Linked DNA regions of Homo sapiens. The protein of the gene in region 1 purifies or fractionates together with the protein of each later gene. This does not show direct contact. Each region holds a gene or a part of one and is shown on either strand. Other genes may lie near its edges.

Region 1 (4,088 bases):
TTTTAGACCATCCTGGCCAATGTGGTGAAAGCCCATCTCTACTAAAAATACAAAAATTAGCCAGGCGTGGTGTTGCGCTCCTGTAGCCCCAGCTACTCGGGAGGCTGAGGCAGAAGAATCACTTGAAACCAGGAGACAGAGGTTGCAGTGAGCCAAGATCATGCCACTGCACTCTAGCCTGGGTGACAGAGCAAGACTCCGTCTCAAAAAAAAAAAAAAAAAAAAAAAAGAATGTAAAAGGTAAAGTGTTAAAACTTTAAACAAAAACACAGAAGAAGTTCTAAGTGACCCTGTGTTAGGCAGAGTCCTTTAATACTACAACAAAAGCATGATCCAAAAAAGGAAAAAATTAATTGGACTTCATCAAAATTAAGAACTGCTCTTCAGAAGATACTGTTAAGTGAATGAAAAGATAAGCCAAAGAATAGAAGAAAACATCTGCAAATCTTGTACCTGGTGAAGAACTTATATCCAGAATACGTTAAAAATTGTCAAAACTTAATAAGTAAACAATCCAATTTAAAAATGGGCAAAAGATCTGAAGAGACATTTTACTAAAGAAGATAAACAGGCCAGGCGTGGTGGCTCACGCTTGTAATCCAAGCACTTCAGGAGGCCAAGGTGGGTAGATCACCTGAGGTCAGGAGTTCGAGACCAGCCTAGCCAACATGGTGAAACGCTATGTCTACTAAAAATACAAAAAAATTAGCCAGGCGTGCTGGCGCGCACCTGTAATCCCATCTACTCAGGAGGCTGAGGCAGGAGAATCACTTGAACCCTGCAGGTGGAGGTTGCAGTGAGCCGAGGTCATGCCACTGCACTCCAGCCTGGGCAACAGAGCGAGACTCTGTCTCAAAAAAAAAAAAAAAAAAAAAAAGATACACAAGTGGCAAACAAGCACCTGAAAAGGTGCTCAACATCATTCATTACTCATTAGAGAAATGCAAATTAAAACCGTAAGAAGCTACTACAGTTAATATCAAAAACAGCCTACTATATGATGATAGAAGTGACAGCAGTGGTCACCTTTAGAAGGGAAGGAGTGGGAGGGGCCACAAGGAAGCTCCTATGGTACTAGAAATGTCTTATTTTTTGGTCAGGTTGGTGAATAACACAAGGGGTTCATTTTGTACCACTTATGCTCACCTTTCTACATAAACTACACTTCAATTAAGAATTTCAGGGCCGGGCGTGGTGGCTCACACCTGTAATCCCAGCACTTTGGGAGGCCAAGACGGGCAGATCACGAGGTCAGGAGATCGAGACCATCCCAGCTAACACAGTGAAACCCCGTCTCTACTGAAAATACAAAAAATTAGCCAGGCGTGGTGGTGGGTGCCTGTAATCCCAGCTACTCAGGAGGCTGAGGCAGGAAAATGGCGTGAATCCGGGAGGCGGAGCTTGCAGTGAGCCGAGATCGCCCCACTGCACTCCAGCCTGGGGGACAGAGTGAGACTCCGTCTCAAAAAAAAAAAAAAGAAGTTCAGGCCAGGCAGAGTGGCTCACACCTATAATACCAGCACTCCGGGAGGCTGAGGCAGGCAGATGGATTACCTGAGGTCAGGAGTTTGAGAACAGCTGGCCAACATAGCAGAACCCCATCTCTACTACAAATACAAAAATTAACCAGGCATGGTGTACGCCTGTAATCCTAGCTACTCAGGAGGCTGAGGCAGGAAAATCGCTTGAACCCAGGAAGCAGAGGCTGCAGTGAGCTGAGATCGCACCACTGCACTCTAGCCTGGGCTACAGAGTGAAACTCCATCTCAAAAAAAAAAGAAAGAAAAAGAAAAGAAAATAATCTACAAGCTATTAATCTCAAAGTATAAATCATTAGCCTCTACCAGTAAACTATTAAAACCCAAAAGAACCTATACAGGTAAAGAAAGAATAAATGAAACTGATATAATTGTACAAAAGAATTTTTTTTTTTTTTTGAGACGGAGTCTCACTCTGTCGCCCAGGCTGATCTCCGCTCACTGCAAACTCCACCTCCCGGGTTCACACCATTCTCCTGCCTCAGCCTCCCGAGTACCTGGGACTATATGGCGCCCACCACCACTCCCGGCTAACTTTTTGTATTTTTAGTAGAGACGGGGTTTCACCGTGTTAGCCAAGGCATGGTCTCGATCTCCTGACCTTGTGATCCACCTGCCTTGGCCTCCCAAAGCGCTGGGATTACAGGCATGAGCCACAGCGCCCAGCCACAAAGGAATCTTATATGGCAATAAAAATGAACTACATAGCGAGGCATAATGGCGTGCGCCTGTAATCCCAGCTACTCATGAGGCTGAGGCACGAGAACCACTTGAACCCAGGTGGTGAAGGTTGCAGTGAGCCAAGATCGTGAGACTGCACTCCAGCCTGGGTGTCAGAGCCAAGACTCTGTCTCAAAAAAAAAAAAAAAAAAAAAAAAGCCTGAAAGACACCAGGAATAGCACACCCTAAAGAGTTTCATTTATACCTTCAAAAACAGGCAAATTAATCTGATGTTAAAACTCATCTTTTGTTCATGATTGGTAGATAGTGGTTACTTTTAAAAAGGAAGGAGGGCCAGCCTGGGCAACATAGTGAAACCTTGTCTCTACAAAAAAAATCAAAATATGAGGCGACAGGATCGCTTGAGCCTGAGAGGTTGAGGCTACAATGTGCCATGATCTCACCAGTGCACTCCTACCTGGGTGACAAAGCCTGAAAAAAAAAAAAAGGAAGAAAGGAGTAATAATTGGTAGAGAGTTCAAGGGGAATTTCTAGAGTTCTATAATATTTTACATCTTGACCAGGTGATTGTTATGTGGATGTATTCACTTTCTGATAATTCACTTAGCTGTATACTTCTGATTTGTGCACTTTAATGTACACACACTATATCTCAATGTTTCAAGAAGGGTTATTTCAAGTTCTTCTAATCATATTCCACTACTAAAAACATTTTAACAATTCCCCATAGCCTAAATGCAAAATCGAAGGTCTTAAGCATGGCAAAGCATAATATGGTTCCTATCTTTAACTTAATCCTCATGTCTGTCCATCCCCACGTATACTTTGTATTTCAATTTATCAAATTATTTACAGGCCCAGAACATAAAATACTGCTTCAGCCTTCAGGCCTTTAGATAATATTTCCATTAGTTGAAATCTTCTCCCTCTTTACACGCCACTAGGTCACCAAACTGTCCCTGAAATTTCCACCCAACTTGGATATTTACTCCTCCAAGATGCTTCCCTACCCCTCCACTCCAAAATTAATCACCCTCTTTTCTATATTCAGTGTATTACTGCATGCATCAAGTGATGGCACAACTGTCCATATGTCAGTCCATACTCTATTGTAATGTAAACAATTCAAGCACAAAGTCTAAATTTTCCTGTTGCCAATGCCAAACATGAGGCTTGGCATGTGGTGGTTACTTAACAAATTTCACTCTTATGTTTATTTCTGTACTAATTAAGACTGTAAAATTATCTAGGATGAAGCCTAAGTCTTATAATTCCTCCACAGCACACAGCATAGCAAGAGCACACTGCAGGCATACAACAGTGATGGTTTAGCTAGCAGTGGAATGTTTACCGAAACACAGTTCCATGGACAAAATGCACTTTTCAAACCATATGCTTACCTATAAGATAAGATACGTATGTCCTACTGGAATTGCAAAAGGTCATCTTTATATATATATATATATATGCATTTCTAGAGTTTTGAGCTACAAGAAACCAATAGCAATCACCTAGTCACAACCCTTAGGAAAGAACAGAAGCCTAGAAAAATTAAGTGGCTTACTCAAGGTTAAGACTATAGCCAAAAGAGTCAAGACTAGGACTCAGATTGCCTAGGTTCTCTCACAATCCATGTAGCCTCCCTTTTGTACTATCTGACTTCTCCAAGTATGACTGCTTTACTATTTTATATTTAGATGGTTAATATCCTCAATTGCAGGGCCTTTAAAAATTTTCCTTTTAAAATTTGTCTTTAACAAACAAATACTAAAAGTACCAACAAGTTCAACCAGGAAAACACCATTTCCAGTTCCAATATCAAGCACTGAAGCATCCAGTGGAATCTTGTGTTTCTGCATCCACCTTAT
Region 2 (4,088 bases), on another chromosome or scaffold:
GGTAACCACTGGCTTCTCTCCTGTGTCACAGTTGTTGCTTAAATTTCGGCTTGTAGATAGCACTGATTTTAGCCCTGGGCTCCCATCTGCAGCCAGCGACTCTATCACAGATGTTTCTTGCAGAATGAGGTTCTCTTTGGCTTCACTGGGGTCTTCCAGTATTAATTCTGGGATTTCTGTGATAAACAACAATTTCCCTACCTCATTTTCACACTGAATCAGCCTAAAAAAGCAAAAATAAATCCATATATAAAAAACATTAACTTAAAAAATAACAACTGAATTGTGTGTGGATCCAAGTCAATATATTCCTAGCACTAATAACCATGAAAACAGCAGGATATAACAATGTGGATTCAGGTAACACAAAAAGTAGTTATGTAGAAACTGAGGTTCTCATTATCACACTTAACATCGTCACAACCTATCCCTCTGGCTCTTTCAACGTTTGCTAGAATTTACATTTTCTGAGCATGCTTCAAGTGCAAGACACTGGTCTAGGGCCCTTGATATGTCCTATAAGGTAGCTATATATAATTCCTATTCTATAGATGTGAAAATTGAAGCTTGGAGGTGGTAAGTTCATTCAAACATGGAAGCATTTAACTACCTACTGTATGACAGAAACCTGAATACAAAAATGAGGAAGTAGTTAGTGACTTTGGAAAGGTTATAATCTACTGGGGAGATCCCAAGGACACCCACTTGAGAAGCTGCGGAACTCGAAACGGAACTCAAACCAATGGAATTACAAAACCTGCGTTCTTTTCCCTACACTAACGACCACATCTGCTTTGTACTTAACTGGCTACTAGCACGATCTTGGTCTGTCCTGCCTGAAACTGACTACCATGCCCAGGCCAATACAAATTACCATGACTGTGAAAGTACAGTTCAGTTAGATTTACAGAGATATTTATAAATTAGAGCAGAAACTCACGATAAACAAGAAAGACCTCTGTAATACACAATAGGGAGAACAGAGATTCTAAATAAAGAGTATACTTACTCACTAGGGTTATAATTAGATGTTGTGCTACCAACATGTCGATTTAAGAGTTCATGATTGACAATATTTATACCAAAGCCTAAAATACGTAACATATGAGATGTGTGTGTGTGCGCGCGCGTGTGCGCGCATGTGTTTATCTAAAAAGGTGGTTAAAAAGGGGTAGACCAGAAGTTCCAGACTTACCTTGGCTGATTATCAGCAATCCATTTGCCTATAGAGATCAAGCGTTGCTGTCGTATTCGTCGTTGCTGGCCTTCTTTGTCCCCTGTAATACCCTGGTGACCTTTGGAAAAATCCAAGTTCCTAAAATTGACACAAGCAAGTTATGAGAATATTAAATTGCTAAAGATATTTTCCAGGCAACCAAGTTCACCTGATTAACTGTAATGGCTTCAGATTACTTCCCACATAGGTTAGCTACTTGATGTAATCAACTGCATTTATTAGAATTTATACTACCAGAGATTTTTACAAACTATGAAACAAAGCAGAAAAGAAAATATACAAATTCATTACATTAATGTAATATTTTTACTCACATTTCACTTTCTAGTCAGGGAGCTCAAATAAACCACAACTTTTTATTAGGAAAGATTCTTTTATCATTTTAAGAATAAAGTTTTATAAACATTTATCTTGCATGCCAAGTAATTTGCTTGAAATGACCATGGCAATGCTAAGAGTCTCTGAGGTGCCTATTTTAATAAATAATATTAATCTATCCACTTTGTGGTGGACCATTCTAAATCAGAAAAATGTATAAATATCGTAAAGCATATAGAATAACTCATTGATATCAGAAGGGTAAACCAACCTGAAAAAATAAAGATTTTTCAGATTTCTCCTTATTAAACTTTTTTTTTTTTTAAGAAGATTTAAGAATTGCCAGGCAGAAGGCTAGATGCTGAGGACACAAAGATAAATAAGAGTCCCTACCTTTGGGAATAAATAATTATGATTCAATCTGATAAGCATAATAAGAACTATGTAAAGAATTAAGTGAATATAGTAAAAGGAGGATGAGTTCCTTCTGAGAAGCTCTGAAAGGTTTCATAGAGTGATACCTGAGCTGGACCTTGACAGGTATGGCTAAGTGCTTACCAGGCTGGTGATGGAAGGGCAGTAGAGGAGAAGGAAATGTTCTAGGCACAACATGAACAAAGGTGTGGAGGAATAAAAATAGTGAGCTATTCAAGTATAGCACATAGTGTATAGAGTTTATAAATACTGGGGGAAATGGAAGAAAATAAGGCTGAACAACTAGGAGCTGGATAGTGCTGGAACTTGAGCATCAAGCTAAAAGAGACAGTGGAGCAACTGGGAATGGGTAAATAAAAATATTAGTCATGCAACATCACTATTTCCATACTTAAAAACTATAGGCAGTGTAGAAACAGACTATAGGAGGAGAAGAACTATACGTAGGAAGGTTTTTATACTTCAGGTAAACTGGTGAGAAAAGCCTGAACTATGTATAGGGAAATAAACGGAAGGACTTGAACCTAAGAAGCATTTCAGACACATAATTATAAAGGCTTGGTGAGAAAGACAAATAGAAACAAGGGTTTTTCAGATTTCTAGCTTGGTCATATAGATGGGTAATGCCACAGGCACAGACAGAAAATAGAGAAAGAAGATTGCTTTTTGGCTGACCAAATCGGAAAATATAAGCTCAGTTTTTGGTCACGTTAAAGTTTAAAATGCGTAAGGGAGGTCAGATTGTTAGAATATGCATCCAAACTTCAAGAGAAGTCAAAGCTGAAAATTTGGGACATACCATTCAAGAGACATAGGGATGGATTTGATTAACAGGGTGAATGTACAAAGTGAGAAGGAAAGGGCAAGAAAAGAATCCTGGAAAACAACAACATTCAGAGGCATGTAGTTTAAAAGAAATAGTGAAAAAGACTGAGTGCTAAGGGTGGGAAAAATTGCATCACAGAGCTAAGGAAAAAGGTTTCATGAAGGAAGGAAATCGACGGACTCAATGCTGAAGAAAATTCAATAGGATAAAGACTATAGTCACTGGATTTTGGTATCTAGAAGGCACTGATAGTTTAAACCACAGTAGGCTGAAAATGATCAGGAGTTGAAGTGGAGTCAGTCAGGTTGGCCCACGCTACTCTTTTTTTTTTGAGACGGAGTCTCACTCTGTCACCCAGGCTGGAGTGCAGTGGCGTGATCTCTCAGCTCACTGCAGCCTCTGCCTCCTGGGTTCAAGCGATTCTCCTGCCTCAGCTTCCTGGGTAGCTGGGACTATAGGCACCCGCCACCATGCCCGGCTAATTTTTTTTTTTGTATTTTTAGTAGAGACGGGGTTTCACCGGGTTAGCCAGGATGGTCTCGATCTCCTGACCTCATGATTCACCTGCCTCCGCCTCCCAAAGTGCATACTACTCTTTTTAAGAAGTTTGATGATGAAAAGATAAGGCAACGTAGGAAAATAGAGGGATGTAAATTCATTTTACCTTTTTAAAAGAATGGGGCACACTTAAATGTTACTAGGCTAAAGATAATTAGTTGTTTAAAAAAGAAAGGAAAGAAAGACAAGACACTGGAAATACAATGCAGAGAGGATAACAGATGGAGCAAGGTTCTTAGGGAGGTGAGAAGGGATGGGATCAAGGGCACAGATGGAAAGGTTACATTTTAATTTTTATTACACAGGAATTGAAGGCGTGACATACACAAATCCAATTCACAACAACTTTCAGTATTAGTTGACGTTACAAAAATAACACACAGCTGGGACAGATCAAAGGTTCCTCTACATCCAAGCCCAATTCTCTGCTAATTTTAATACTGCAATCACTGGCAATGATAAAGGTACTTCAGCTATCACCTACCTGAAAGAAGGTCTCAATGCCAAAAATCCTTGTAATTCAAACTCCTCTGGAAGTGGTGTCGCTAAAGGGTCAAAATCAAAATTTGCAAACATTTTAATTAAAATGTTGTTTGGTGGAATACTGTTCACTAAATTTTTTTAAAAATTAACATACAGAAAGAAATTATAATGCTTATTGTTCTCTGCTCTTCTTTATCATGATCCTGATGAAAATAACTCACCTGTCAAAAC
Region 3 (4,088 bases), on another chromosome or scaffold:
GCGTCGGGTTGGCTCTACGCAGGGTCCACCATTTCCCTTCCTTCCCTGAGAGGATGTGGTTCACATGAGGTCCCTGGGAAGCCTGTGATCTCAGTGGACCCCTTGCCAGTGAACAGGGCTCATCACCATTGAGTCCACAGGGGGAATGAACTTGAGGGTATAAATCCACCTGAATGTCAACCAAGCCAAAAGGAACCAAGAAGGCAGTGCAGATGAAAGGGGGCAGGGGGAAGGCTGTGTGATTCCTCCCCTCCTGAGGCGAAAGGGACCCCTTCCTTATTTTCAACAGCTCCTAGCATATTATCACCTCTCTCTTCCCTTAGACTAGAATCACGTGCTGATGGCCCTATACAATCCTTTATGCTATGCAGTGCTACTTCCCATCCATTTCTACACTTTACAGCTGGAATTCTTCTATCCTCAGGTGTGGCCCAAGATACCCACAGCAGCCACCTTTATTTAAATCCTATGTCCTTTCAATCCCTGCTAAAAGGACAACCCAATATTGACATACCTTATGTCCTCAAACAGAACCTACTTTGATTTGAAAAATTGAGGCTAGGCACGGTGGCTCACACCTGTAATCCCAGCACTTTGGGAGGCAAAAGTGGGCGGATCACCTGAGGTCAGGAGTTCAAGACCATCCTGGCCAACATGTGAAACCCTGTCTCTACTAAAAATACAAAAATAAGCTGGGCATGATGGCGGGTGCCTGTAATTCCAGCTATTCAGGAGGCTGAGGCAGGAGACTTGCTTGAATCTGGGAGGCAGAGGTTGCAGTGAGCCAAGATCGCGCCACTGCACTCCAGCCTGGGTGACAGAGTGAGACTCCGTCTCAAAAACAAAAACAAAAACAAAAAACAACAACAACAAAACAAAACAGAAAAGAAAAATTGAAGTGGCATGACAACAGCAAGAGCACATTCCTTCCCACTCCCTGGTCTGCTCCGTAAGGGAGCTGCAGGAGCTGGTGTGGCCTTGACCCCGTTAGCTGGTCCCCCACTCCCACCTTCTAACCTCAGTATCTAGAGAGCAGCACTTCGGTGATAACTGCTAAGAAGAGGAAGAGGCAGGTGGAAGGTTTCGTGCCATGGACTCAGAAAAGTGAACAGAAGACAGCGGCTCCTTCAAGGAAGAACGTGTGCCAAGGTGAGGGTTTGGAATCAAATGGCCAAGAGCCATGATTACGGTGGACACGACGCCCTTCCTCAGGGAGGGGAGCTGCCGGAGGTGTCTGGTGGGGGAAGAGCTGACAGCCCACGTGGGGTGCACGTGGACAGCATCCACTGGGTCTGCCCGGGGAGCCTGAGCTTGCTCAACTCCCTCCGGGGCACTGCTCTGAGCCAAGGGCACTGGAGTCGTGGCTATTTGGGCATCCCTTACTAAAAGGATTTGGTGTAGGGGTCGGGAGCTTACCTGAGTATTCCAGATATGGACGCACTTGTCGAAGGATCCACTGGCCAAGTACTTCCCATCAGGGCTGAAAGCTACGCTATAGACAGGCTCCTGATGCTTCGTGAGCGTGTGGGTGCAGACGCCTCGTTCTATGTCCCACAGTCGCACCGTAGAATCAAACGAAGCACTAGCAAGGTGGGAGAGAAAGCAAAATCACATACACACGGTGGTTTCAAACAGTTCTCCATAATGTGTATCAGATCTCCAGGAGTTGTTTTTCCCAGCTTTTACGTTTCAAAAGATAATAACTAAAAAGCTTTTTGTCTTCTAAACTGTAACTACTTACAAGTATTAAAAACAAAGCCATAGTCATTAAACAGAAAAAAAGCTTTAATGGTCTTATTAGGGAAACAATTTGATATCTACATTTGTTTCTGCACCTTTTTTTTTTTTTTTGAGATGGGGTCTTACTGTGTTGCCCAGGCTGGAGTGCAGTGGCGTGATCATGACTCACTGCAGCCTCGAACTCCTGGGCTCAAGTGATCCTCCCGCCTCAGCCTCAGCAGAGAAGCTGCAACCATAGGTCCACACCCGGCTAATTTTTATTTTTTTATTTTTTGTAGAGACGGGGTTTCACTGTGTTGCCCAGGCTGGTCTTGAACCTCTGGGCTCAAGAGATCCTCCTGCCTCACCCTACCAAACTGTTGGGATTACAGGTGTAAGCCACTGCGCCCAGCCCTGTTTCTATGTTTCCTATAGACGTAAATGGTAAATATTTTTGTAGAATATTTATCAAGTTTCCTAAAATGCCCCTACAATTTAAAACATGACATCTATTATTACCAACTAAATTAATACAGACAGCCATATTTGGAAAAATAGCAAATTAAGTGAATAAACATTTAAAAAACTTTTTAGGCCAGGTACAGTAGATCATGCCTGTAATCCTAGTACTTTGGGAGGCCAAGGTGGGAGGATCACTTGAAGCCAGGAGTTCAAGACCAGCCTGGGTAACATAGGGAGACCCTGTCTCTAAATAGAAAATAAATTTTAATCAAACAAGAATTAAAATACAATCACATCCACATACGTAATCACATTATTGAAAGCTGCAAATTTTAGTTATTTTCAAACTTAGAACAGTAATATCTATCACAAAGCTATTGTCTGGCTTGCTTTCTTTCAACAGGGACCCATTAGGTACCGGGATGCCCCTTTTATACTTGCTGACTAAAAGGATAATTTATGCTCCTAATAGTACCACGCGACGCAAAAGCACCTTCTGAGTCATCACAAAACAACTCGAGTGTGTAGTACTATATCACACTATATCACAGTACTTTAAGTGGATTTTATGACAATTACTTGAAATATGAGAATTACGGCCTATGTGTTCTTTGTTTTTTTGGTTCCGTCTCTCAGTGGATGCAGGAATTCCATCCTGTCCTCTCTAAGAGATGACCTTAATTCGAGCACCGTCAACAGGAGTTGGTGCTGCCTGGCTTGCTGTCCCTCAACTGTGGCTCTGCAGTCATGTTGGGTGGTTTTTTTTCTTCTTCTGTTTTTTTTTTTTTTTTTTTTGAGACATGGTCTTGCTCTGTCACCCAGGCTGGAGTGCAGTGGTGTGATCACCGCGCACTGCAGCCTCAATCTCCTGGGCTCAAGCCATCCTCCTGCCTCAGCCTCCTGAGTAGCTGGGACTACAGGCACACGTCACCACGCCTGGCTAAGTTTTTGTAGAGATGGGGTTTCACCATGTTGCCCAGGCTGATGTTGAACTCTTGGGCTCAAGCCATCGTCCTGCCTTGGCCTCCCAGGGTGCTGAGATTATAGGCGTAAGCCACTGTGCCTGACTCAAAACCATCCTTACCTCAAAGGCAGGTGTTACTCGGTAATTCTATCCTGGCCCCTTCAAAGTGAGCTACCGCTTTGCTTCCTCTGAAGGGCTTCAACACACGTGCATGGACGCGCTTTAGCAGAATTTCCTGTTGTCTTTGTGTAACACCGAGCTGTGCCAGCTGTGTTGCCTGCCCTTACCTTGCCAACATGATGTTGGAGTTTGGGTTGCTGGTGGCGGGCCCAGTGGGGCTCCACTTGATGGTGTAGATCTCTTTATTGTGAGCCTGAAGATCATGGATGCACACCTCCTGTTTCATGCTCCAGATCTACAGAACACACCAGACACAACATGAGCAAAAGCCATTCCTGCATCCGGGAACGATGTGGAATCATTCCTCCCGGGGGTGCACACGGGGCCCAGGGCAGGGTGGAGGGTGCACAGTGGTGAGAAAGGCTGCAGGGAGGCTGCGATTCTCAGTGGGACTATGACTGAGAAATCGTAGCTCACCGGATGACAGAGGAAGGGAGGGTGGTCAGTAATAAATAATCCTCATGTAAGAGTGACCGTGAGACTGGCATCAAGTGCCCGGGGTTGTCTAGGATTAAACAGCCCACCCCTTGCCATGCCGACTCTACCTTCAATGTCATGTCATCCGAGCAGGATGCCAGCAACATTCCAGACGGATCCCATTTGATGGCGTTGACCTCGTTCTGAAAGAGAGCAGAAGAGTGTGAAAAAGACATCAGGGCCTGTGAGTAGATGAGGTCACCTTCCAGCAGGGGGCAGCAGCGCGCCACCGGCGCTGCAGAAGGTCTTCGGCTTCAGCCTGACATCAAAGGGCACAGCCCAACCA
Region 4 (4,863 bases), on another chromosome or scaffold:
AATATTCAGTATTAGAAATGGGTTGAGGAGTAAAAGTTGATACAGAATATAACAAACATGATTTAAAATTTATTGACTCCAAGTATCTATACACACTGATTTACATTTTTTTCACATTTATTAAGTCCCACCAAAAGTATGGGTAACCAAAATCCATATATACTCTAATAAAGACAGGGCATACACCTCTGGCATATTTTTATTATTTTTTTCATTAAAATGTTATTGGTTTCTTATTTTATATAAATTATATAAAATGTGAAGCTGGGTAAAAGTAGTCAACTAGTAAAAATTTTATACATTTTTACTGAGTATATGCCATTATAAGAACGTATGGAAATGGATATATATATATATGGATGTATTTTTTGAGAGAGGGTCTCACTCTGTCACCCAGGCTGGAGTGCAGTGGCATGATCACAGCTCACCGCAGCCTCAACCTCCCGAGTAGCTGGGGTACAGGAACGTGCCACCACACTCGGCAAATTTTTTTTTTTTTTTTTTAGAAATGGAGGTCCTTCTACGTTGCCCAGGCTGGTCTCGAACTCTCAGGCTCAAGCAATCCTCCTGCCCCGGCCTCCCAAAATGGTGGGATTATAGGCGTGACCCTTTGCGCCTGGCCCACTTTTGTATTTAGGATGCAGGGCCCTGAGATTGGCATCTAGGAAAATTCTGGACTTAGGCCAGGGGAGGGGGCATGCCTGGATCTCTTACAAAAACTTGCCACGCCTCCAGTTGGTCATGATGTGGGCCCCTGGTAATGAAGGACCTCCACCATGACCACAAGTACTTTAGTCAGAAAACAGCTCGAAAACGTGTGAAGAGAGTCCACCAAACAGGCTTCGTGTGAGCAACAAGGCTGTTTATCTTACCTGGGTGCAGGCGGGTTGAGTCCGAAAAAGGAGTCAGCAGAGGGTGGTGGAATTATCATTAGTTCTTATAGGTTTGGGATAGGTGTACAAAGTACATTCTTAAGGGCGGGGGAGAATATTACAAAGCACCTACTTAAGGGCAAGGGGGAGAATATATCCTGTCAGTTAGGGTGGGGCAGGAACAAATCACAATGGTGGAATGTCATCAGTTAAGGCTATTTTCACTTCTTTTGTGGCTCTTCAGTTGCCTCAGGCCATCTGGATGTATACGTGCAGGTCATAGGGGATATGATGGCTTAGCTTGGGCTCAGAGGCCTGACAACGTCTATTTTGGGTTTGATTCTGGCCCACCACCTCCACCTCGTACTTTCCTATCCTCAATTTCAACCTCTAGAAATTAGGCAAACTGGAAAGTAAACTGATGCGGGTCGTGTTGCTTCAGCTGGGGACAGGATTTCGGTGGGCGCTCCTGCCGGGGTCCGTAACCTCCCACACAGCTAACGTTTACAGGCCCGTTTATATTATCACGAATGGTTTTCAACCATTTCGTGTCCATCCCTAAATTAAGAGGCTTGAGGGGCGGCACGAAAGAGCGAAGACACCTCCGCACGGTCTCCAAACCCCTAAGTCCAGAGGCCTGGAGCATCCCCGGAAAACCAGATCCCTCTCCAGAGAAGCCCTTCCTTCCGCTCCGCCCACCCCGCGCGGAGGCCACAGGGGTCACGTGGCGGCCGCGGGAGGGGGAAGTGGGCGGCTCTGCGGCCGCCATCTTGAGGATTCGGAGGCGGGGCGTGCAGAGCTCAGGGCGCGCGCTTCGCTTCCCCTCCCCTCGCCCAGCCTCGCGCCGGCGTCTGTGCTCCTCCCCACTTTTCTTGGTTCCTGCGGCCGCTCCCTGAGTGGAGGAGCGGGGAACCCCGGAGGCGGGGGGGGGTGTGTCGGACGCGTGCTCGCGCCCTCCAACCGCCAGCCGCGGGGGCGCGCTCGGCCGGGCCCCCGGGGCGACGCGGGGCCGAGGGGAGGGGGCTGCTCCCGCGGCTGAGGCGGCGCGCAGCGGCCGAGGTGGCGGCGGCTGCAGCTGCGGCGGCGCGCTCCGAGCCTGCGTCTAGGGCGCCCCCGGGTCAGAGCTGTCGCCGTGGCCGCCGCTGCAAGAACCATGTACCGCAGCAGCGCTCGCTCCTCCGTCTCTTCCCACCGGCCTAAAGACGACGGCGGGGGCGGCCCGCGCAGCGGCCGCAGCTCTGGCTCCTCCTCAGGCCCGGCTCGCCGCAGCTCACCGCCGCCTCCGCCCTCCGGCTCCTCGTCGCGGACCCCGGCTCGCCGACCCCGCTCGCCCTCAGGGCACCGCGGCCGCCGGGCCTCGCCGTCCCCGCCACGGGGTCGTCGCGTCTCCCCGTCCCCGCCTCGGGCCCGTCGCGGCTCCCCGTCGCCACCGCGGGGCCGACGACTCTTCCCGCCGGGCCCGGCCGGCTTCAGAGGCAGCAGCCGGGGGGAGTCCCGCGCCGACTATGCCCGGGACGGCCGCGGAGACCATCCAGGCGACAGCGGCAGCCGGGTAATCCCACCCCTCGTCCAGGACTCCCTCCATCCCCCAGTCCCCTCCCCCGGAATTCCCGTTTCCAGAAACGCCCGGGGCCTCCAGACCAGGGTCCTAAGCGCGAAGCCTCCGGCCAACTCCCTCGGGGATGCCGAGCCTGGAGGCTTCTGTCAGACCCGGGAGCGTTGACACAATAACGGACTCGGGAGCGCACGGGCGTCTCGTCGGGAGTGCGCGCTCCGTTCCTTAGGAATAGGCTGTTTCTCTCATGCCGGGTGAGGTGTGGAAAGTTTGCCAAGGCGAGGGGCATTTCGTCCAAACCGTGTGTCTTGGTACTTTTTGTAGAGTTGATGTGTCCTCGGGGTTCCGTACTTTTCATCCCCTTACACCTGAGCTGCCTTCCTGGATCTTAGGGGAAAAAGCCGAAATGTCCGTTTTTGTGGCGAGTTAGGGACGCTTGAACCCTACCAGGCTTTACGTCTAGAGTGTAAACTGTTAGCTTAAATGAATTGGAGCTGCTGCTTCGGAATGAAGTGTGCAGGACCACAGTCACTGCCATAGCCACTACCTCTTATCGAGTTCTATGTCAGGAATTATGCCTAGCCTTTCACTTTGCACATTATTTTAACCCTCACAAGTCTTTGAAGTGAGGCAGTTAATACTATTCCTTGTTGTACAGCCGAGGAACCAACCCAGAGAGGTTCAAGTAACTCGACTGAGGTGACACGGCTAAGTGGTGGAGCTGTGCTTCAACTCAGATCCGCCTGGTTCCCCAAATCCATGATTTGAACCTCTATGTTTCACTGCTAGAGGAACGGAGCATGAGTTTAAGTTTAGTTTTAGAAATAATGTTGACCTTTAACCATAACCACCACCCCAAGAGATCCTCTAGGTAGAGTCTGGTTTTTGGGAATTTGTTTTATTTTTAGTTCATCAATCTTTTTATTATTATTATTATTTGAGAAAGAGTCTCACTCTGTTCCCCAGGCTGGAGTGCAATGGCATGATCTCAGCTCACTGTAACCTCCGCCTCCGGGGTTCAATCAATCCTCCCGCCTCAGCCTCCCAAGTAGCTGGGATTATAGGCGCCTGCCATCATGCCCGGCCTCTTTTTTTAAACTTAGTAACAAAGTTCTGCTTTTTTGAGTGGCTCTCTAACATGTATGTAAGTACTGTGAGTACTTTGGTCATGGTTAAATTGATTTGTCACTATGTTAAGATTTCCAGTTGAGCAGTGCCAGTGTGGGTGGCAGTCACTACAGAGGAAGGAAGAACAGAATGCTTGTTTACACAACCTCCTTTTCTTCTCCAGTGCGCAATGTATTTGCTCCAGTCTTTTCTGTCTGAGTAAATAGCATCATCCGTTGCTTACATCAGAAACAGCCATTATCTCCCTTCTTCCCACATCTAATTTGTCAGATTACCTCATCTGTCTAACCCGTTAGCTTTACCTCTAGAATACATCCCCAAAACTGCCATCCTCCTGCCATCACTCTGGTCTAAGCCCTATTACCTCTTGCATGGATTGTTGCATTTGGCTCCTTTACACTCCGCCCTTGCTACCCTCCAGTTTGTTCTGGAGGTTACACAGAAATCAAATTGATTTTTAAGCCCTCATTTTATACATTTGACATGTATTTATTGAGCATCTACTTTGCATTAGGACTGTTCTGGACTACCCTGGGGATACAACAAAGTACAAACCAGAAAAAAACTCCTATCCTTATAGAGTTAATATTCTAGCAGGGAGAGTTGGATAATAAGTTGAAGTTAGAAATGCGATGGTATGTTAAATGTAATTAAGTACTAAGAAGGACTAAGAAGTACTAAAATAGGGCCGGGCGCGGTGGCTCACGCCTGTAATCCCAGCACTTTGGGAGGCCGAGGCAGGCGGATCACGAGGTCAGGAGATCGAGACCATGTTGGCTAACACGGTGAAACACCGTCTCTACTAAAAATACAATAATTAGTCGGGCTTGGTGGCGGGCACCTGTAGTCCCAGCTACTTGGGAGGCTGAGGCAGGAGAATGGCATGAACCTGGGAGGCGGAGCTTGCAGTGAGCCGAGATCGTGCCACTGCACTCCAGGCTGGGGACGACAGAGCAAGTCTCAAACAAAACAAAAAAAAAAGGACTAAGAGCAGAGAAGGGAGTTACAGTTTGTGTGCGTGTGTGTGTATGTAATATAGTGTTGCTCTGTCACCCGGGCTTGAGTGTAGTGGTGTGATCATAGCTCACTGCAGTCTCAAACTCCCACGCTCAAGCGATCCTCTCACCTCAGCATCCTGAGTAGCTGGGACTACAGGTGCGTACCAACATCCCAGCTGATTTTATTTTAAAAAAATGTTTTGGTGTGGGGAGGGATTTCACTATGTTGCCCAGGCTGGTCTCAAACTCCTGGCCTCAAGTGATTCTCCTGCCTCAGCCTCCCAAAATGCTGGGCTTACAGGCATAAGCT
Region 5 (4,088 bases), on another chromosome or scaffold:
CGGCATTGGATCTATCTGCCATCTTGTCAAGGCAGCAGAGTTGTGTTAAGAAAACATTTTTGGAGTCAGATGTGTTTCAAATTCCAGCTGTTATTCCCTGCATCCGTTTCTCTCATTTTAAGATAGGAGCTAATATTGTTTACCTAACAGTGTAGATGGTGTAAAAATTAAGAGTTTAAGTGCATTGGACGTATTATTATATACATAATAAATTCTCTGCAGCTACTACTTTTTTCCCTTTCCTGGTGGAGCATTTGAACATCACCTTGAGAATTAGTTGTATTTTGTTTGAACACAGGGTTAAGTGAAAAGCTAATTTGGGGAGGTGATTTGGAATGTCAGGTAGTCCAGGTTGCAGTGTAGAAAGAACACACTGAAAGGATGGTCAGTGTAATGTTAGAGGACTGTGAAAGTTGGGGAAAGAAGTTTAGTTTGTAGGTACTTGTTTTTTTGAGCAGGGAATTGTCTTGGCTGGAGGTGAACGTCAGAAAGGTTAATGTAGGCAAGTGTAGAATGGAAATGAAGGTGTGATCATTTAGGAGGTTATTTGTTTAGGTGAGAGAGTTAATGAATTAGGTTTTGTATTAACGAATGAAAATGGGAGCAGATAAATTTTTAACAAATTAAGAATCATATTTTAAAATCAGCACCAGGTACCTAGAACTCTTTGGCAAATAGAAACTTTCAAAAGATATAATCAGGTCCGGGCGTGGTGGGTCACACCTATAATCCCAGCACTTTGGGAGGCTGAGGTGGTGGATCACTTGAGGTCAGGAGTTCAAGACTAGCCTGGCAAACATGGTGAAACCCCATCTCTACTATTATACCAAAAATTAGCCGGGCGTGCTGGCTGACGCCTGTAATCCCAGCTACTCGGGAGGCTGAGGTGGGAGAATTGCTTGAGCCCAGGAGGTGGAGGTTGCGGTGAGCCAAGATTGTGCCATTGCACTCCAGCCTGGACGACAGATCGAGACACCATCTCAAAAAAGAAAAAAAGAAAAAATCAGTTATTTAAATTTAAAAGAGTAAGTTTCCCCAGCACTGTTTCTGGCATGATATAATTAAATGATTAAAATTATTTGATTTTTTTTTTCTTCCAATAGAAAGAAATGCAGGAGTTGAAACTAAATAGCAGTAAGTCAGCATCCCGTCATCGTTGGCCCACAGAGAATTATGGACCAGACTCGGTGCCTGATGGATATCAGGGGTCACAGACATTTCATGGGGCTCCACTAACAGGTGAGCTGGCAAGTGGATAATCGCATATTTTAGTAAAACTACTTTACTTCCCTCTTTTAAGTAGATAACGTGTGAAATCACCTTGTTTATATATGTTTGTTAATATACATGTCAACGTCTGTTTATATGTGACTTCAAAAGCTGTATTAGGTGTTACGGAGATTTTTATAATCCCAAGCAGAAAAAACGAGCCGTATGTGATCACGTGTATATAAAGGCTTAAAGAACACTTAATCCACACCTCAGATGAGCTGAGATGAGATTATTCCTTAAATTGCAAAATGTTATTGAATAGAGTTATGCACTAAGAAATGCTTAATTAAGAACCTACACCTCTGGGGAATTATTTTGATGATAATGATGAGAGGCAGGACGTTATATAGGAAATCTTACTTAATTTGAAATATTATGGTTATATAAAGAAAGAAAAGGAGTTTGGACCTGAATCATACTGGGTTTTTAAGTTCTGCTCTATCACTTACTATAATAGCTGTGTAAGTTAACCTGTCTGAAATGTGGAGATAATACTTGCCTTACATAATTACTATGAGCATTTGTGTATGTGCAGGTGGGCGTGGGTGTGTATCAGACATTTATTAGAGTATACAGTAAACAGTTAATGAACTAAGGTTACTAATAGTGTTTACTGTGGGTTGGCTGTGTGCAAAAGTGCTGTGTGAATGTAATTTGATTTAATTACAGTAACTTAGAATGGCCGGCACCATTATTAATCCCTTTTTTATAAATAAGGAAATGGATAAAGAAAGGTTAGGTAACTTACTCATTATTATACAGCTAGTTATTGATAGAGCCGAGATTCACACTCCAGTGGTGTAACTCCAAAGCACTTGCCAGTATAATACATTGCTCCCAGGCAGCCAGAAATAACAAAATTGTTCCTTTTACGTACGACAGACTTCTGAAATGGTAGTAGTAGTGCCCTTTTTTTTTTTCTCTTTTTAGCCCAGGAAAGATTTAGAAAAAAATCTAGTTTAGATGAGCACATTTGTGTGATGGTTCCTATAGTTAAGGCAACCCCACTAGCCTTTTGTGATAGTATCTTCTCAACACAAGCAAAATAACAGAAAATCTTTGTGAAGTCAAGCTTATTAAATGTCGTAAGTCATAGATAAGTATATGAAATGTCTAACGTTCAAACCTTGTTTTCTTAAAACCTTACACATCATATAGGTCCTTGTAAGAGGATAAACAAACCGGCTAGCCTTTCCTGGGGCTTTTTTAGTGATGTGTGCAGTCAGTTATTTGGTGCCTTGTGGGTCATGATTTCCATTTCTTCTGTGTACAGGCATAAAAGGTCTTCTGTTCTTATACAAGCATGTAAATCCAACATTCTCATTGTCTCATTTTATTCTTGCAATGACCCTGTGAAATGTGTAGAAGCAGCACATCGTCATTTTACAATTGAGAAACATGGAGACTCCAAATGGATTATTTACAGGTTCACAAAACAGCTTTGTGGCACTGAAAGGGCGAGAGCCAAGATCTCCTGATTTCTGTTCCTGTGTTCATAGATTCTTTTTCCTTAATAAAAGTAAACATATATCAAGATGGTCCTTGTTTTTTTAAAATAAGATGATTAAAATTAAAGATTAATGAGCTCATAGGAGATACTCAGAAGTACTGAACAGGGTGAAGAAAACTAAAAGCTAACCACCTTATTAACATTTCTTATATTTGAGAGCATTTCCTTCTGGTTCTTTCTCTATACATATAGTATTTTTTATGAGATTGTTACCATGTTACTATGTTGTGTGTAGATGAGCTAGCCTGTTTTTAAAATGTTACTTTAGTTCTGAGCATTTTTAAACTTAAATGTTTTTTGAATATTAATGAGTTCATGGTATCCCATCACATGGAAGTACTGTAAATTCTGTTCCTTTATTTATGTTGTTTCTGGTTTATGCCATTACAAATTCTAGGACACTGTCCTAGTTTTGTAGGGTATTCAAAATATTCAGTTTATGCTCTTACCGCTAGTATCTGATAGTGCCATTTTCGCACTTTTGCTAATGCTGACTTACTAGTTTATAAAATCCTTTGCCAATTTGTAGGAACAAAAGTGATATCAATTTTTAAGTTTTTTTAATACTAGTCATGCTCAACAATTCATGCAAATGGCAGTTGGTAGTTTTGCCATCTTCAACGTACCTTCCAGTTGTTTGGTTTCTTGGTAAAACTCACACAAAACAGATGGAGAAGAGTTTTTGTATATCAACATGAATGTTAATGTGATTTTTTTAAAGCCAACGAACACATTTGTGTTCCTTGTGAGATCCTGTGCGTGAATTTGTCAGGTAATTTTTTTGACCTGAACATTCTCATAATAGCTTCAATTTGCACAATGCAACCTCGTCATTTTGCAGATTTTCAAGGCTCACTTCAAAAACATGTTCCTTGAGGCCTATTAACATTTCTTTCCTAAATTGTCTATTCATATGGTGCTTTAAAAAATTAGATTACTTTTAGTAGATTTATTAGAGCCGCACAGTTTAGAGTCAGTAGTCAATTAAAGTCCCTACTTAAACTTCAGACTAAGATTTTTTTTTATTTAATATTTTATTTTTTCTTTTTGCTTTCATGCAGACAGACATCTTGCAAGACTTTAAGATTCTTGGGCCATTTCTGTCAGGTTGTTCTGTGTTCTGTGCCTGCTTCCTCCCCATAGTAATTTCAAAATAGCTATCCTCACCTCTGTAAGGTTTCCGAAATCAAACTTGGGCTTCTGGCTAGCCTTTTCTAGGTCTTGATTTTTCAGTGCTTTCCAGAGGCAATTGTTTGGAACCTCTTGGCACAGTTTCTGTTTCTTCTTCCATGTACAGGCATAAAAG
Region 6 (4,743 bases), on another chromosome or scaffold:
CGGAGTCTTGCTCTGTCGCCCAGGCTGGAGTGCAGTGGCGCTATCTTGGCTCACTGCAAGCTCTGCCTCCTGGGTTCACGCCATTCTCCTGCCTCAGCCTCCCGAGTAGCTGGGACTACAGGCACCTGCCACCATGCCCGGCAACTTTTTTGTATTTTTAGTGGAGACAGGGTTTCACTGTGTTAGCCAGGATGGTCTCGATCTCCTGACCTCATGATCCGCCTGCTTCAGCCTCCCAAAGTGCTGGGATTACAGGCGTGAGCCACCGCGCCTGGCCAGACAAGTGTTTTTTCTATACTTTCACTCACAACACTCAATACTTCCAGAACACTTCGGACAAAATGTATGGGATTTTCCCCACACCAACCAATTCTCTGATAGCAGCCAGGTGTCTTACAATTAAACTCAATTCTGATACCACCTATTTGGATATGGCCTCAGATCCCAAAGGTTAAGGGCTCAGTCCCATAATACTGTCCCTACCCCGACTTTAGATGCCAATCACAAGTTCAAGTTGTCACCTGCACTTCTGACTGTCTATAAATCAAAGGCTACCACGATCCCCCCGCCCAGTTTGATGATTTGCTAGTGTCTCACAGATATGGGGAAAGAGTTTAGTTACCATTGCTGATTTATTACAAATACATTTTAAAGGATACAAATAAATAGCCAGATAAAGAAGTAATCTGGAAGGGTCCCAAGTGCAGGGCTGTCCTCATGGAGTTGGGGTAACTCTCCTGGCATGTGGATGTTGTCGGCAACCCAGAAAATCTCCAAACCCTCAACTTCAGGGATCTTTATGGAGACCCCACCACGTAGGCATGATGGATTATTAACTCCATGTCCAATTCCTCTTCTCCTCCCTGAAGGATGGGGGTGAGGTGGGGCTGAAAGTTCCAGGCTTCTAATCTTGGCTTGGTGTTTCTGGTGACCAGGCCCCATCCAGGAGCCCACCAATAATTGCCTTATTAGAACAAAAGATGATCCCGTCACCCAGGAAATTACAAGGAATTTAGGTGCTCTGCGTTAGGAACCAGGGCAGATTTCACAATATTGATCCGAAATGTAAGCTCCACCAGGGCTAGACTCTGCCTTGTTCACTGCTATATCCCTGGGGCCTACAACAATGTATATATGGTAACCACTTATTAAGCATTTGTTGTGTGAATAGTTATAATAAAAATCCATCCTGCCTAGGCATTCTGGCTTTTTTGAATCGCTCTTCCTTCTTTTCTACCCTCTTCCGACACCTGTTTCTTGTCAAGCCTTTCATTAAGCTACTCCTTTTCAGCCCTGGGCACAAGAAAACAAAACTGAGCTAAACACTTTTTTGGTGAAAGCCAAAAAACCACTCATGAATGCTAATTATCCAGCATTCGCCTGTTTACATGTACGTATGATCAGAGGGTACACTTCATCCTCTTGGGTATTCATTCATTCCCATATTCACACATACTTATTAGGTGTCTATTATGTGGCTGACACATGGTAGGGGTTACAGAGGTAAGACACACAAGGTTCCTGTCTACGTGGGAAAGAGACAATAAACAACACAGTGGTAGGCACTGTTAAGAAGAGAAGAGAGAATATTGGAAGTGAGGCACATTTCAGTTACAGTGGACAGATGACATTTGAGTAAAAAACTGAATGAAGTAAAGAAACTCATCATGTGACAATCTCAGTGAAGAGTATTTCAGATTGATGAACTCACACTCCAGGTTGAAGAACAAGAGGCCTGTTTAGCTAGAACAGTATGAAAGAGGTGGAGAGGGGCAGAAGATGAGGTCAGAAACATAGGCAAGGTCTGCTCAAGGGTCTGACGAGATTTTATTCTTAATGTGATGGGAAGCCACTGGAATGCTTCAAATACAATAGTGACTTAAGGGGTTTACCTTTTAAACAAGCTCTCCAGCTCCTGAATCAGAATACATGAAGTCTCCACGTGTGCTTTACAAATATTTTTGTAAAGAAGTCTCTACTAGGTGCTTTACAAATATTTTATCATTAAAAAGTAATTACTTGTGCTAACTTTGAAATCCCAAATAAGTGGATGGGAATCCTGGCTTCACTACCTACCAGCTGTGTGATCTTAGTCACCTTAATATCCCTGGACTCAATGTCCCCGTCAGTAGCAAAGAAATTATTATAATTTCCTCGATTACTTGTGAGATCAGGGATTATTCACTCATTTGTTTATTCGAAATATTTAGTGTGCCAGGAACCATGCTAGTTGCAGAGAAAAAAAGGGTACAGCCTCTGCTATCAGGAACTTACCGTCTAGCGGGGAAGACTTGATACAAATCAACCACGTACAGCCGTGTGCAGGCTAAGACAGTTTATAAAAGGATGTGGTAAGGGAACAGTTTGGGAAGGCTTCTCTGAGCAAATGAAGTTAGTGTATACAAAACTCAGTATACACTAGGTATTTGTATTATTGCTACTAGTCGCAGGTAGGGTTCAAATCCTGGCTCTGCCATTTACTAGCTTTGCAAATTTCTCCTTTTGAGCCTCAACTTCCATGTCTGAAAATGAGGACAACAGTATGTAGCTATAGGGCTATTGTGATAATTACATGAGATACCCCCTGTTAAGATTACTGTCCAGTGAATGGCAATAGTCAGCACCCATTGAATGTCCACTCTTAATACTGTTGTTAATTTTGAGTCCTCTGAATGGAATAAAAGACCGCAGCCAGGTCTGGAACTCCGCTGGCTCCCCCTTCTTACTTCCTCTCGTTTTCTGGGGTCGTCAAATTCCCACCACCCCCGGTCGCCAAGAGCCGGCCCACATCACTGACCTTCTCAACCTTCTTCGGCCCCTTCACCAGTTCATGCCTCTTGGGGATTGTTCCCCCGTCGCAACCCATCGCAGGACGGGAGTCAGAGCCAGCAGCAAACCCCCAAAGCTGTCACTTCCGGGATTTCCGGCGAAATCCGCAGCCACTTCCGGCGCACCGCCGTGACGCAGCACGCTGGTCGTGGCGTAGCGGGGCGGGGCGGGGCGGCACGCTAGGCGCGGCGTAGCGGGGCAGGGCGAGGCCGTTACCAAGTGCCGGTTGTCATGGAGAGCGTCGCTTGGAGGCTGGGCGTGGGCGGGTTTCCTCGTTCCCGTGAGACCCTGGGTTTCTGCTGCACAATCGGAATCACTCGCCCACGCTCCGGGAGGGCAGCGAGGGCGTGGGCGGCCCGTGCGCATCCACCGCTCTTTGACCCTATCCCACGCCAGCTTGTGTGGCTGCGGAGCGGGCACATCCCTGGACTGAGAGCGCCTTGAGGAAAAGGGCCGCCCTCCTGTTTCTGCGATTAAGGATGCCTATGAACGGAATCTGCTGTATCAATGGACATTTTTGTGTTTAAAAGGAGAACGCATCTTTCTTGAGCGCCAACTGTGACTCAAGCACTCACAACAAATCTTGTGAAGTGATGTTACAACAGATTCTAGGAAGTAAGACCCTCCCTTAAGGCCTGGAACTTTCTGGTGTTGCCATGCATATTGTAGATGGCATGTGTGTGAAATTTTGCATACAGTTTGTGCGTGTGTGTATTTCATTCACAGTTTCCTGAAGCCCAGGCTAAAAAAATTTTATTAACAATCAAGTATCATTAATAGACGATATAATAGTTCTTATAAAATATACACTGATGTTGCCATGCCCGTTCCAAGAGTCAGGCTGTATTTTATCTATAAGAACACAAATCCCTTGCTAAAAATTCATGATTGTCTGTCTGCTCTTAGGCGATTGTCTATCTCTCTGTTTGTTCCTTTAATTATTATAAATATTATGGGAAAGTGCCTATAATCCCAGCACTTTGGGAGGCCGAGACGGGAGGAGCACCTGAGCCCAGGAGTTCCAGGTCAGCCTGGACAACATGGTGAGACACCATCTTGAAAGAAAAAGAAAAATTAGCCAGGCGTTGTGGTAAGCTTTTGTAGTCCTAGCGGCTCCGGAGGCTGAGGGGGTAGGAAGGATTGCCTGAGCCCAGGAATTCAAGGTTGCAGTGAGCTTATGATTATGCCACTGCACTCCAGCCTAGGCAACAGAGCAAGACTCTGTCATTAATATGTATGTATGTATGTATGTATGTATTTGTACATATATATGATGGGAAAATTTCTCCATTGCCAAGAAGGCAGATCTTTATGATTGGATATTACCCTATTGACCTACGTGAAACATAAAAACGCTGAAAATATTTTTTACTTGGGAAGAGTTGCCCAGAAAATACGTGGATGTGGAAACTTCAAGGGCTATATGTAAGCTTGGGGTACTTGTTACTGTGATTAATGAGAATTTTAAAAAATAATCCCTTTAATTAGTTGGTCTCTGATTGATTTATGATTTATTTCTATGCTAACCACAATAACTGTAAGCTCTATGAGGGTAGGGACTTCATTTTGTTTTGTTTTGTTTTAGACAGAGTCTCGATCTGTTGCCCAGACTGGAGTGCAGTGATGTGATCTCGGCTCACTGCAACCTCAACCTCCCAGGATCAAAGCGATTCTCCTGCTTCAGCCTCCCCAGTCGCTGAGATTACAGGCGCCCGCCACCATGCTGGGCTAATTTTTGTATTTTTAGTAGAGACGGGGCTTCACCGTGATGGCCAGGCTGGTCTCAAACTCCTGATCTCAGGTGATCCACCTGCCTCGGCCTCCCAAAGTGCTGGGATTACAGCCGTGAGCCACCAAGCCCGGCCAGGACTTTTATTCCACATTGTATCATCAGTGCCTAGAAGAGTCTTTGGC
Region 7 (4,868 bases), on another chromosome or scaffold:
CCACCCCGCAACCCCAATTCTCTAAAGTTCCTTGACCTCGATTGACTCCTCCACCTCCTGCCATCCTTTTGGGACCCTCGATGTCCAACATACCAGCCTTGTGGGCACTAAACCCAAGGCCAGTGATGCCCATCTCACTTTTCTATTCCATTGTAGCTGCCACACCCCAAACTGTCTCATTTCCTGGAATATCCATTTGAAGGCCTGAACTCCAGCACCACACTCTCTGCTGCCAGTTTGCCAGTCCTCTCCTCAGAGGCCCTGGCCTTGGAGCCCTTCTCTCATCTGTCTCCCAGTCCATCAGCTCCCCGCTGGTTTTATTAACAGTTCCTGTCCTCTAGGACTAGAGCTCTGGCCCATCACTGCAATCGCAGTCTTTCTGTGCCCTCCACCTCCTCACCCTCTTGTCCTTCTATTCTATGCAAGCAGGAAACTTGGGTTTCATAACTAAGAGCTATATTTCTGTAGATACCTTGCCAGATTATAGCAGATTATAGCTGGACACCACTACACGATGATGGTTTCTAAACTCCACTAGGTCTTCAGTGACTCTTGTCTAACTTGTCGCTCTAGCATCTCACACTGGTTATGCGAAATTTCCACCACTTTCCTAAAACCTTCCATCTCACTTCAGACCCTTCTGTTGTCCATGTTAGCTTCCTTCAGTGGTTGGCTTCTTGCCTTCACCCGAAAAACCTCCTGTATCCGTTCCCAGCACCAATCATCCTCCAATACTCTTTTTTTTTTTTTTTTTTGAGACAAAGTCTCCTCTGTCACCCAGGCTGGAGTGCAGTGGCCTGATCTCGGCTCACTGCAACCTCTGCCTCCCAGGTTCAAGCGATTCTCTCTGCCTCAGCCTTCGGAGTAGGTGGGATTACAGGCAGGTGCCACCACACCTGGCTAATTTTGCATTTTTAGTAGAGACAGGGTTACACCACGTTGGCCAGGCTGGTCTCGAACTCCCGACCTCAGGTGATCCGCCTGCCTTGGCCTCCCAAAGTGCTGGGATTACAGGCGTGAGTCACCCGAAGAGTGACTTTTTAGAGTATTTGGGCGGGGTGCAGTGGCTCAAGCCTGTAATCCCAGCATTTTGGGAGGCAAGGCAGGAGGATCAGCTGAGGTCGGGAGTTCGAGACCAGCCTGGCCAACGTGATGTAACCCCGTTTCTGTTAAAAATGCAAAATTAGCCGAGCTTTTTGGCATCCGCCTGTAATCCCAGCTACTCCGGGGGCTGAGGCAGGGACAATCGCTTGAACCCGGGAGGCGGAGGTTGCAGTGAGCCCAGATCGCGCCATTGCACTCCAGCCTGGGCAAAAAGGGCGAACGAAACTCCGTCTCAAAAAAAAAAAAAAAAAAAAAGTCACTCTTGGAAGCCTTAATTGCCTTCCTCCCCTCACTGCACCCCCGCAACTCTTTGCTGCAGAAGTATTGTTCTAGGGAACCTTACTGGTTCCAACAGACGGGTGGACCTCCCACCAGACTGTGAGCTAGCTCCTCAAAGGCAGGCATTCTCTTTCCTTTTCCTTCTCTCCTGAGCGCTCCTGCAGTTCCTGGGGCGTAGTAGGGGATCCACAAGCGTTTGTGACCAGTGAAGTTCTTTACAAGGGTGAGATCTGCACGGGAGGACCCGAGCGAGGGTCTCGGCTTGCCAGGAAGCCGGGGTTCCCCGGGAAGCGTGGAGTTCACCCGCGCACTCGAAGTGCCTTTGCAAAGTGAGCCACGGGAGGGAGGAGCGGTCCCCGGGCTGGGCGAGGCCTGGGGCCCAGTGCGTCCAGAGCGGAGGGTGACGGGAGCTGCCTGTGCTGGAGGAATCACTTTTTAGGCGCTTGTTTTGGACCATTGCACAAACCCGGGTGCAAACCCCAAGCTCACCAGCGTGAGTGAGCTGGGCCAGCAGCAGGGAGGAGAGGGGAAGGTGGGCGAGGAGGGCGCCGCGCACCCCGAGGCCCGTGTGGGCGGTGGGAAGATCCCGGGGGCGGCTTTGGACAGCCCCGGCAGCGACCCCTTCCCCAGCCCGACAGGTGAGCGCCAGGCCAGCCGCGGGGTGGAGCCCGCCGTGCCCACCGGCCACCCTCCCCGGTGCTACCACCACCGCGCAGGTAACTTCCCTTCTGGGCCTGTCCCAGACCCCCAGGGCCTCGGCGCCCGGGCCATCCCTCGTCCCCAGGGCCTCTCCGCCCTGCACCCCCAGCCCCGGTGCACTTGTGGGGCCGGGCTCCTTTGTCCGCTCTCTGATGGCGCCGGCTCCCTGCCCAGCGCTGAGTCGGGTCCGGCCGCCAGCCCCGCGCTCGCAGACCTCGGCTGCCGGGTGTGGCGCGGGGACTGGGGAACGCTGGCCCGTGCCCAGTGCGGTTGGAGCCTGTCCCGCGCGTCCCCGGGACGCGCTTCTTCCCGCCTCCGCCCGCGCCAGCGCCCGCACCCGGATCCCCACTTCTCCCGGCCCTCGGGAGCCAGGAGAGCCCTGAGATGGCGTTGGCGGAAGTGAAGCCCCGAGCGGGGGTCTGCGAGGCTGGTGATCAGCGCCGGTAACATGGCCTTTCTGTCCTCTCCCCGGTCCCAGTGCACCCCTTAAACAACGACCCCCGCGTTTTCCCCGTACTAGATGGTTAGGGCGCATAGTGCCGAACTACGCTGCTGCTACAGAATAGCTTTTTTGGGGGCAACATAAAAAAGAATTGTATGTATGGTTTATATACAACAAAATGTCCCATTTTCAGTGTGCAAATCGACGGGATTTGACAAATTATACACTCCTGTAACCATTATCCCAAAGTGAACATTGACCATTTCCTTCACCCTGCAAAGTTCCCTGGTACCTCCTTTCTGTCAATCCACCCCAGGCCCCGCACTCAACCCCGGTTCTGATTGTTATCATAGCTTAGCTTTGACTGTTCTAGAACTTCATAGAACAAGATCATCAGGTAAGTACTCTTTTGTGTCTAACATTACTTTTTAAATGGCCATCACTGAGAAGGTGTCTCTGGGTGCTTCCGGTGCTTTTATTTGCTCTAGGCCTGCCTGGTCTAATGTGGGAGCCACTGGTCACATGTGGTTATTGAATACTGGAAATGTGGCAAAATCCGTACTGAGATGTGCTCTGAGTACAGGCACCTGATTTCTGAAAGCTTAGTACACAAAAAAGATGTCAAATATCTCACTAATACATTCTTACATTGTGCGTTAAAAGTGATAACATTTTTGGCTACATTGGGTTAAATAACATATATTAACATGAACTTCATTTGATTCTTTTTACTTTTTTAATATGGCTACTAGAAACTTAAAATTACGTACCTGGCTGTGTAATATTTTTTATTAGGTAGTGGAGACAGCACAGCTCTACACTGTGCTATCCTATAAACACTTGGTTCTGCTCACTGCATGTAAGAGTAAATGAAAAACTTGTCTTGACACCAGAAACAATCCTCAATGGAGGAAGTGATCTAAAACAGGGCCAGCCTTTCCCTGAACCTTTGAAACTTTGTTAAACTTACTTGTGTGCTTAAAAGAAGTAGAGGGCCGGGCATGGTGGCTCATGCCTGTAATCCCAGCACTTTGGGAGGCCGAGGTGGGCGGATCACGAGGTCAAGAGATCAAGACCATCCTGGACAACATGGTGAAACCCTGTCTCTACTAAAGATACAAAAATTAGCTGGGAATGGTGGCATGCACCTGTAGTCCCAGCTACTTGGGAGGCTGAGGCAGGAGAATTGCTTGAACCCGGGAGGCGGAGGTTGCAGTGAGCCCAGATCGTGTCATTGCACTCCAGCCTGGTGACAGAGCGCGACTCCAACTCAAAACAACAACAACAACAACAAAGTAGGAAGAATTAGGTGTCCCCTTGGTATTAAGTTGCATTTTTACAAAAGGTCTCTAAAATATCCAAGGTGCTTTAAAAAGGTATCTTGTGTTTTTGAAAAAACAGAAAATGAGCAATTGCTTATGTAGGGGAGGAAAGAGCTGATATCATAAGGGTCACGGCTGACAGCCTTAAACAAGAGACAGATTAACAAGAGAGAAGCATAATAATTTATTGAATCATAGGTTTATGTGACATGGGAGCCTTCAGAAATGAAAACCCCTTAAAGATGCAAGGGAAATGATCTGATTTTATGCTTGGAGTCCATGAAGCAGGGACAGATGAGCTAATGGAAATAGACTGAGTGGGGAAACCCAGCAAAGCCTGTCCACATTCTTCTTGGCCTCTCTGTTGTAGCGTTTCTTCCTCCCCAGTATGGGGTAGGACCTCTTTGGAATGAGGGTCTTAATTTCTTTATGGCCAGCTGTTGTATAGAAAGGTGGTTGAGAGGAAGGTTAGAGTCATATTTTTTGGCTTTATGGCTGGCTTTGGGGGGAAAAGGGTTCTAGTTTCTATGACTTGCCTTGGGGGAGTATGAGGGGTGAGAGACAGGAGGGCAGGAGAAGGTCAGAGAGAAACTTTGCTTCTGAGGCCTTCATTTTTGGGTTTTGTTTTCTGAGCCCCAACACATACAACCTAATCACCTAAATATATTAAGACATAACATGGTGTATCTTTGACCAAATTAAGATAGAAATCTGTTTTTTTTTTTTTTTTTTTTTTTTTGGAGACAGAGTCTCACTCTGTCACCAGGGTAGAGTGCAATGGCACGATCTTGGCTCATTGCAACCTTCACCTCCTGGGTTCAAGTGATTCTCCTGCCTCAGCCTCCCGAGTACCTGAGACTACAGGTGGGTGCCACCACGCCTGGCTAATTTTTGTATTTTTAGTAGAGACAAGGTTTAACCATGTTGGCCAGGATGGTCTTGATTTCTTGACCTTGTGATCCGCCCGCCTTGGCCTCCCAAAGTGTTGGGATTACAGGCGTGAGCCATTGCACCCGGCCATA

What was found.
Region 2: the proteins of EEF1AKMT2 (region 1) and SMG7 purify together in Homo sapiens (affinity purification with mass spectrometry; one large-scale study listed by BioGRID and IntAct). This does not show direct contact.
Region 3: the proteins of EEF1AKMT2 (region 1) and TBL1X purify together in Homo sapiens (affinity purification with mass spectrometry; one large-scale study listed by BioGRID and IntAct). This does not show direct contact.
Region 4: the proteins of EEF1AKMT2 (region 1) and ZNF318 purify together in Homo sapiens (affinity purification with mass spectrometry; one large-scale study listed by BioGRID and IntAct). This does not show direct contact.
Region 5: the proteins of EEF1AKMT2 (region 1) and RGPD8 purify together in Homo sapiens (affinity purification with mass spectrometry; one large-scale study listed by BioGRID and IntAct). This does not show direct contact.
Region 6: the proteins of EEF1AKMT2 (region 1) and RTF2 fractionate together in Homo sapiens (co-fractionation; one large-scale study listed by BioGRID). This does not show direct contact.
Region 7: the proteins of EEF1AKMT2 (region 1) and CTPS2 purify together in Homo sapiens (affinity purification with mass spectrometry; one large-scale study listed by BioGRID and IntAct). This does not show direct contact.

The regions. Positions count from the first base shown.
Region 1 is NC_000010.11:124,785,042-124,789,129, forward strand, and holds part of EEF1AKMT2 (EEF1A lysine methyltransferase 2), read right to left. Parts: coding exon 4,002-4,088; coding exon of another isoform or gene 3,998-4,001; intron 1-3,997.
Region 2 is NC_000001.11:183,538,211-183,542,298, reverse strand, and holds part of SMG7 (nonsense-mediated mRNA decay factor SMG7), read right to left. Parts: intron 3,920-4,088; coding exon 3,859-3,919; intron 1,316-3,858; coding exon 1,196-1,315; intron 224-1,195; coding exon 1-223. UniProt on the Homo sapiens protein: Plays a role in nonsense-mediated mRNA decay. Recruits UPF1 to cytoplasmic mRNA decay bodies.
Region 3 is NC_000023.11:9,709,105-9,713,192, reverse strand, and holds part of TBL1X (F-box-like/WD repeat-containing protein TBL1X), read right to left. Parts: intron 3,946-4,088; coding exon 3,871-3,945; intron 3,561-3,870; coding exon 3,433-3,560; intron 1,583-3,432; coding exon 1,417-1,582; intron 1-1,416. UniProt on the Homo sapiens protein: F-box-like protein involved in the recruitment of the ubiquitin/19S proteasome complex to nuclear receptor-regulated transcription units. Plays an essential role in transcription activation mediated by nuclear receptors.
Region 4 is NC_000006.12:43,366,528-43,371,390, reverse strand, and holds the start of ZNF318 (zinc finger protein 318), read left to right. Parts: upstream 1-1,968; 5' UTR 1,969-2,003; coding exon of another isoform or gene 2,004-2,025; coding exon 2,026-2,424; intron 2,425-4,863. Other genes in the region: atherin-like, read right to left, coding at 1,270-1,968, 2,004-2,027.
Region 5 is NC_000002.12:112,391,769-112,395,856, reverse strand, and holds part of RGPD8 (RANBP2-like and GRIP domain-containing protein 8), read left to right. Parts: intron 1-1,103; coding exon 1,104-1,239; intron 1,240-2,637; coding exon of another isoform or gene 2,638-2,750; intron 2,751-4,088.
Region 6 is NC_000020.11:56,466,821-56,471,563, reverse strand, and holds the start of RTF2 (replication termination factor 2), read right to left. Parts: upstream 2,938-4,743; 5' UTR 2,867-2,937; coding exon 2,798-2,866; intron 939-2,797; exon of another isoform or gene 623-938; intron 1-622. UniProt on the Homo sapiens protein: Replication termination factor which is a component of the elongating replisome. Required for ATR pathway signaling upon DNA damage and has a positive activity during DNA replication.
Region 7 is NC_000023.11:16,709,566-16,714,433, reverse strand, and holds the start of CTPS2 (CTP synthase 2), read left to right. Parts: upstream 1-1,764; 5' UTR 1,765-2,099; intron 2,100-2,216; exon of another isoform or gene 2,217-2,921; intron 2,922-4,593; exon of another isoform or gene 4,594-4,623; coding exon of another isoform or gene 4,624-4,710; intron 4,711-4,868. UniProt on the Homo sapiens protein: Catalyzes the ATP-dependent amination of UTP to CTP with either L-glutamine or ammonia as the source of nitrogen. Constitutes the rate-limiting enzyme in the synthesis of cytosine nucleotides.